Homo sapiens: one gene and its partner. The protein of the gene in region 1 interacts with the protein of each later gene in a biochemical or structural test. Each region holds a gene or a part of one and is shown on either strand. Other genes may lie near its edges.

Region 1 (4,155 bases):
TGAGCTATGGAGATGATGAGGACTCCCTCAGCAGCGCCTACATCCAGCGGGTCAACACTGAGCTCATGAAGGCTGCCGCTCGGGGTCTCACCCTGCTCTTCGCCTCAGGTGACCTCCTACCCTAAACTTAGACAATGCTTACACCTCTGCAGCCTGGGAGCTTTGACTCCACAGTGATCCCTGAGCCTGGTCTCTGACTCATAATCTGAACTCAGACCTTCCAGTAGGGACCACTGACCTGACCTCTACACTCTGACCTCCTACAGTAACAAATTTCCCCTCTGACATCCGAACCCACATACTAAGCCCTAACCAATTAATATGAATGCTACACTTGGTCTCTCTCAGGTGACAGTGGGGCCGGGTGTTGGTCTGTCTCTGGAAGACACCAGTTCCGCCCTACCTTCCCTGCCTCCAGGTAAGTACTCTAGCCTACCACTCAGGTATAACCACCACCTTTCACTTGTGATCTCATGATGTAGAACCTTTGTCTTGACCCCACCATGTGCTCCTGTGGTTCAGCCTTAAGCTTTGCCTGCCCTGGTTGCTGTACTCCTGTCTCTTCTTCCTGCAGGTCCCAGGCCCCAAATCTCTTGTGTGGGATACAGCTCCCATTGTTCCTTTTCGTCAGTTCCCAGGCATTTTAGTGGAAGATTTGGTGGGTGTTCTGTAGAGAAAAGTGTGCACAGTCACCTCGGGCCATGCCTTGAAGGCTCAAAATCTCTTAGTCAATCCCATATACATGCTTCCCCACAGAGTCTAGTTCCTCCAGCAAGACCTGGGCTATACTCACCCCTCCCCACATATCTTGGAGGTCCCCTTGGGTCCCCTACTATCCAAATGCTGTCTTCTCCCCTCAGCCCCTATGTCACCACAGTGGGAGGCACATCCTTCCAGGAACCTTTCCTCATCACAAATGAAATTGTTGACTATATCAGTGGTGGTGGCTTCAGCAATGTGTTCCCACGGCCTTCATACCAGGTACGTGTGTTTGTGTGGATGGATGCAGGGTAAGAGTGAGGATGGGGGATCCTCAGTTCAGCTGACTGCTGGGCAGGCCACATGCCAATACTCACTCAAAAATGCCTTTCAGGAGGAAGCTGTAACGAAGTTCCTGAGCTCTAGCCCCCACCTGCCACCATCCAGTTACTTCAATGCCAGTGGCCGTGCCTACCCAGATGTGGCTGCACTTTCTGATGGCTACTGGGTGGTCAGCAACAGAGTGCCCATTCCATGGGTGTCCGGAACCTCGGTGAGAATCAGCCCATCTCCAAACTCTCACTCAGGAACTACCCTTACCCCCTAACACCTTGAACACCTTGCACCTAGAACCCCTGACTCCTTAGAGATGTCTGATACTTTAAAGCATCACTCCCAAAAAGTCCAATCACTCAGAACCCCTGACCTCTACTTGCACCTTCACTCTTGTAGGCCTCTACTCCAGTGTTTGGGGGGATCCTATCCTTGATCAATGAGCACAGGATCCTTAGTGGCCGCCCCCCTCTTGGCTTTCTCAACCCAAGGCTCTACCAGCAGCATGGGGCAGGACTCTTTGATGTAAGTATGGAAGGGAAGGGTGTGGACGTTTTCAAACAACTATGGGGAGTGCTAAGGGGGACTTGGGGGCAGTTAGGGTGGTGTGGAATAGCCTTTGAAATGTGAGTACAGGGTGAGGAGATATACTCTTTAAGTACTGGTACTAGTAGGCCCAGATCTGATGCCAGCCTCCTCCCTAGGTAACCCGTGGCTGCCATGAGTCCTGTCTGGATGAAGAGGTAGAGGGCCAGGGTTTCTGCTCTGGTCCTGGCTGGGATCCTGTAACAGGCTGGGGAACACCCAACTTCCCAGCTTTGCTGAAGACTCTACTCAACCCCTGACCCTTTCCTATCAGGAGAGATGGCTTGTCCCCTGCCCTGAAGCTGGCAGTTCAGTCCCTTATTCTGCCCTGTTGGAAGCCCTGCTGAACCCTCAACTATTGACTGCTGCAGACAGCTTATCTCCCTAACCCTGAAATGCTGTGAGCTTGACTTGACTCCCAACCCTACCATGCTCCATCATACTCAGGTCTCCCTACTCCTGCCTTAGATTCCTCAATAAGATGCTGTAACTAGCATTTTTTGAATGCCTCTCCCTCCGCATCTCATCTTTCTCTTTTCAATCAGGCTTTTCCAAAGGGTTGTATACAGACTCTGTGCACTATTTCACTTGATATTCATTCCCCAATTCACTGCAAGGAGACCTCTACTGTCACCGTTTACTCTTTCCTACCCTGACATCCAGAAACAATGGCCTCCAGTGCATACTTCTCAATCTTTGCTTTATGGCCTTTCCATCATAGTTGCCCACTCCCTCTCCTTACTTAGCTTCCAGGTCTTAACTTCTCTGACTACTCTTGTCTTCCTCTCTCATCAATTTCTGCTTCTTCATGGAATGCTGACCTTCATTGCTCCATTTGTAGATTTTTGCTCTTCTCAGTTTACTCATTGTCCCCTGGAACAAATCACTGACATCTACAACCATTACCATCTCACTAAATAAGACTTTCTATCCAATAATGATTGATACCTCAAATGTAAGATGCGTGATACTCAACATTTCATCGTCCACCTTCCCAACCCCAAACAATTCCATCTCGTTTCTTCTTGGTAAATGATGCTATGCTTTTTCCAACCAAGCCAGAAACCTGTGTCATCTTTTCACCCCACCTTCAATCAACAAGTCCTCAATCAACAAGTCCTACTGACTGCACATCTTAAATATATCTTTATCAGTCCACAAGTCCTTCCAATTATATTTCCCAAGTATATCTAGAACTTATCCACTTATATCCCCACTGCTACTACCTTAGTTTAGGGCTATATTCTCTTGAAAAAAAGTGTCCTTACTTCCTGCCAATCCCCAAGTCATCTTCCAGAGTAAAATGCAAATCCCATCAGGCCACTTGGATGAAAACCCTTCAAGGATTACTGGATAGAATTCAGGCTTTCCCCTCCAGCCCCCAATCATAGCTCACAAACCTTCCTTGCTATTTGTTCTTAAGTAAAAAATCATTTTTCCTCCTCCCTCCCCAAACCCCAAGGAACTCTCACTCTTGCTCAAGCTGTTCCGTCCCCTTACCACCCCTGATACAACTGCCAGGTTAATTTCCAGAATTCTTGCAAGACTCAGTTCAGAAGTCACCTTCTTTCGTGAATGTTTTGATTCCCTGAGGCTACTTTATTTTGGTATGGCTGAAAAATCCTAGATTTTCTAAACAAAACCTGTTTGAATCTTGGTTCTGATATGGACTAGGAGAGAGACTGGGTCAAGTAAGCTTATCTCCCTGAGGCTGTTTCCTCGTCTGTTAAGTGTGAATATCAATACCTGCCTTTCATAATCACCAGGGAATAAAGTGGAATAATGTTGATAACAGTGCTTGGCACCTGGAAGTAGGTGGCAGATGTTAACGCCCTTCCTCCCTTGCACTGCGCCCCCTGTGCCTACCTCTAGCATTGTAACGACCACGTAGTATTGAAATGGCCAGTTTACTTGTCTGCCTTCCTTTCCAAGACCGTTGGTGCCTAGAGGACTAGAATCGTGTCCTATTTAACTTTGTGTTCCCAGGTCCTAGCTCAGGAGTTGGCAAATAAGAATTAAATGTCTGCTACACCGAAAACCTCACGCCTCTCATTCGTTGTGATTTTTGCATATGTTGTTGACTCAGGCTGAAACTCCTCCTCCTCCTACAGCAGCACTGTGTGCCGCCCCACTGCTGCCCCCACCTCTCGGGGCAGCTGGCGGAGAAGAGAGGGGGCTTTCCAAATCCACTATGAATCCTTAAAAGGCTGAATAAGGGAACTTGAAACGATGCAGACAGGCAGGCAACCCGTAGTCGAGGGACATAGGGCCATAAACGTCGAAGCCAGGTCTTGAGCGTCAGACAGAATGAGGTGTCCCAGAGCGGCGGAGGAGAGCCAGACGCACGCTGGTTCCGGTCTGGACGGAATCGCCGCGGAGCACGGCAGAGGCTAGGGCGGAATGGCTACGGCAGCGCAGTTCGCCAAGGCTCGGTCTCCGCCCTGCAGCCTATTTCCTCTAACCCGCAGATCCACTATGGGAGGAGGCGGGGAGCGGGCTGGAGAGCACTAACAGAGACAGGCGGGGCGAGTCGTGGGC
Region 2 (3,500 bases), on another chromosome or scaffold:
TGAGGTCTCCAGGCCCTCGGTGAGCTGGAGGTATGGAGTCCGGATGATGCAGGTCCGGGGTGAGGTCGCCAGGCCCTGCTGTGAGCTGGATGTGTGGTGTCTGGATGGTGCAGGTCTGGGGTGAGGTCACCAGGCCCTGCGGTGAGCTGGGTGTGCGGTGTCTGGATGGTGCAGGTCTGGAGTGAGGTCGCCAGACGGTGCCAGACCGTGCGGTGAGCTGGATATGCGGTGTCCGGATGGTGCAGGTCTGGGGTGAGGTTGCCAGGCCCTGCTGTGAGTTGGATGTGGGGTGTCCGGATGCTGCAGGTCCGGTGTGAGGTCACCAGGCCCTGCTGTGAGCTGGATGTGTGGTGTCTGGATGGTGCAGGTCTGGGGTGAGGTCGCCAGGCCCTGCTGTGAGCTGGATGTGTGGTGTCTGGATGGTGCAGGTCTGGAGTGAGGTCGCCAGGCCCTCGGTGAGCTGGATGTGCAGTGTCCAGATGGTGCAGGTCCGGGGTGAGGTCGCCAGACCCTGCGGTGAGCTGGATGTGCGGTGTCTGGATGGTGCAGGTCTGGAGTGAGGTCGCCAGGCCCTCGGTGAGCTGGATGTATGGAGTCCGGATGGTGCCGGTCCGGGGTGAGGTCGCCAGACCCTGCTGTGAGCTGGATATGCGGTGTCCGGATGGTGCAGGTCAGGGGTGAGGTCTCCAGGCCCTCGGTGAGCTGGAGGTATGGAGTCCGGATGATGCAGGTCCGGGGTGAGGTCGCCAGGCCCTGCTGTGAGCTGGATGTGCGGCGTCTGGATGGTGCAGGTCTGGGGTGTGGTCGCCAGGCCCTCGGTGAGCTGGAGGTATGGAGTCCGGATGATGCAGGTCCGGGGTGAGGTCGCCAGGCCCTGCTGTGAGCTGGATGTGCGGCGTCTGGATGGTGCAGGTCTGGGGTGTGGTCGCCAGGCCCTCGGTGAGCTGGAGGTATGGAGTCCGGATGATGCAGGTCCGGGGTGAGGTTGCCAGGCCCTGCTGTGAGCTGGATGTGCTGTATCCGGATGGTGCAGGTCCGGGGTGAGGTCGCCAGGCCCTGCTGTGAGCTGGATGTGCTGTATCCGGATGGTGCAGGTCTGGGGTGAGGTCACCAGGCCCTGCGGTGAGCTGGTTGTGCAGTGTCCGGTTGCTGCAGGTCCGGGGTGAGTTCGCCAGGCCCTCGGTGAGCTGGATGTGCGGTGTCCCCGTGTCCGGATGGTGCAGGTCCAGGGTGAGGTCGCTAGGCCCTTGGTGGGCTGGATGTGCCGTGTCCGGATGGTGCAGGTCTGGGGTGAGGTCGCCAGGCCTTTGGTGAGCTGGATGTGCGGTGTCTGCATGGTGCATGTCTGGGGTGAGGTCGCCAGGCCCTTGGTGGGCTGGATGTGTGGTGTCCGGATGGTGCAGGTCCGGCGTGAGGTCGCCAGGCCCTGCTGTGAGCTGGATGTGCGGTGTCTGGATGGTGCAGGTCCGGGGTGAGGTAGCCAAGGCCTTCGGTGAGCTGGATGTGGGGTGTCCGGATGGTGCAGGTCCGGGGTGAGGTCGCCAGGCCCTGCGGTTAGCTGGATATGCGGTGTCCGGATGGTGCAGGTCCGGGGTGAGGTCACCAGGCCCTGCGGTTAGCTGGATGTGCGGTGTCTGGATGGTGCAGGTCCGGGGTGAGGTCGCCAGGCCCTGCTGTGAGCTGGATGTGCTGTATCCAGATGGTGCAGGTCCGGGGTGAGGTCGCCAGGCCCTGCAGTGAGCTGGATGTGCTGTATCCGGATGGTGCAGGTCTGGCGTGAGGTCGCCAGGCCCTGCGGTTAGCTGGATATGCGGTGTCGGATGGTGCAGGTCCGGGGTGAGGTCACCAGGCCCTGCGGTTAGCTGGATGTGTGGTGTCCGGATGGTGCAGGTCTGGGGTGAGGTCGCCAGGCCCTGCTGTGAGCTGGATGTGCTGTATCCGGATGGTGCAGGTCCGGGGTGAGGTCGCCAGGCCCTGCGGTGAGCTGGATGTGCTGTATCCGGATGGTGCAGGTCTGGCGTGAGGTCGCCAGGCCCTGCGGTGAGCTGGATGTGCAGTGTACGGATGGTGCAGGTCCGGAGTGAGGTCGCCAGGCCCTGCGGTGGGCTGTATGTGTGTTGTCTGGATGGTGCAGGTCCGGGGTGAGTTCGCCAGGCCCTGCGGTGAGCTGGATGTGTGGTGTCTGGATGCTGCAGGTCCGGGGTGAGTTCGCCAGGCCCTCGGTGAGCTGGATATGCGGTGTCCCCGTGTCCGAATGGTGCAGGTCCAGGGTGAGGTCGCCAGGCCCTTGGTGGGCTGGATGTGCCGTGTCCGGATGGTGCAGGTCTGGGGTGAGGTCGCCAGGCCCTTGGTGAGCTGGATGTGCGGTGTCCGGATGGTGCAGGTCCGGGGTGAGGTCACCAGGCCCTCGGTGATCTGGATGTGGCATGTCCTTCTCGTTTAAGGGGTTGGCTGTGTTCCGGCCGCAGAGCACCGTCTGCGTGAGGAGATCCTGGCCAAGTTCCTGCACTGGCTGATGAGTGTGTACGTCGTCGAGCTGCTCAGGTCTTTCTTTTATGTCACGGAGACCACGTTTCAAAAGAACAGGCTCTTTTTCTACCGGAAGAGTGTCTGGAGCAAGTTGCAAAGCATTGGAATCAGGTACTGTATCCCCACGCCAGGCCTCTGCTTCTCGAAGTCCTGGAACACCAGCCCGGCCTCAGCATGCGCCTGTCTCCACTTGCCTGTGCTTCCCTGGCTGTGCAGCTCTGGGCTGGGAGCCAGGGGCCCCGTCACAGGCCTGGTCCAAGTGGATTCTGTGCAAGGCTCTGACTGCCTGGAGCTCACGTTCTCTTACTTGTAAAATCAGGAGTTTGTGCCAAGTGGTCTCTAGGGTTTGTAAAGCAGAAGGGATTTAAATTAGATGGAAACACTACCACTAGCCTCCTTGCCTTTCCCTGGGATGTGGGTCTGATTCTCTCTCTCTTTTTTTTTTCTTTTTTGAGATGGAGTCTCACTCTGTTGCCCAGGCTGGAGTGCAGTGGCATAATCTTGGCTCACTGCAACCTCCACCTCCTGGGTTTAAGCGATTCACCAGCCTCAGCCTCCTAAGTAGCTGGGATTACAGGCACCTGCCACCACGCCTGGCTAATTTTTGTACTTTTAGGAGAGACGGGGTTTCACCATGTTGGCCAGGCTGGTCTCGAACTCATGACCTCAGGTGATCCACCCACCTTGGCCTCCCAAAGTGCTGGGTTTACAGGCTAAGCCACCGTGCCCAGCCCCCGATTCTCTTTTAATTCATGCTGTTCTGTATGAATCTTCAATCTATTGGATTTAGGTCATGAGAGGATAAAATCCCACCCACTTGGCGACTCACTGCAGGGAGCACCTGTGCAGGGAGCACCTGGGGATAGGAGAGTTCCACCATGAGCTAACTTCTAGGTGGCTGCATTTGAATGGCTGTGAGATTTTGTCTGCAATGTTCGGCTGATGAGAGTGTGAGATTGTGACAGATTCAA

The links. The genes of interacting proteins can lie anywhere in the genome.
Region 2: the proteins of TPP1 (region 1) and TERT form a complex in vitro, tested with the Homo sapiens proteins (2 studies listed by BioGRID and IntAct).

The regions. Positions count from the first base shown.
Region 1 is NC_000011.10:6,612,268-6,616,422, reverse strand, and holds the end of TPP1 (tripeptidyl-peptidase 1 preproprotein), read left to right. Parts: coding exon 1-108; intron 109-348; coding exon 349-418; intron 419-860; coding exon 861-981; intron 982-1,093; coding exon 1,094-1,252; intron 1,253-1,431; coding exon 1,432-1,557; intron 1,558-1,736; coding exon 1,737-1,877; 3' UTR 1,878-3,655; downstream 3,656-4,155. UniProt on the Homo sapiens protein: Lysosomal serine protease with tripeptidyl-peptidase I activity. May act as a non-specific lysosomal peptidase which generates tripeptides from the breakdown products produced by lysosomal proteinases. Requires substrates with an unsubstituted N-terminus.
Region 2 is NC_000005.10:1,281,569-1,285,068, reverse strand, and holds part of TERT (telomerase reverse transcriptase), read left to right. Parts: intron 1-2,444; coding exon 2,445-2,640; intron 2,641-3,500. UniProt on the Homo sapiens protein: Telomerase is a ribonucleoprotein enzyme essential for the replication of chromosome termini in most eukaryotes. Active in progenitor and cancer cells. Inactive, or very low activity, in normal somatic cells.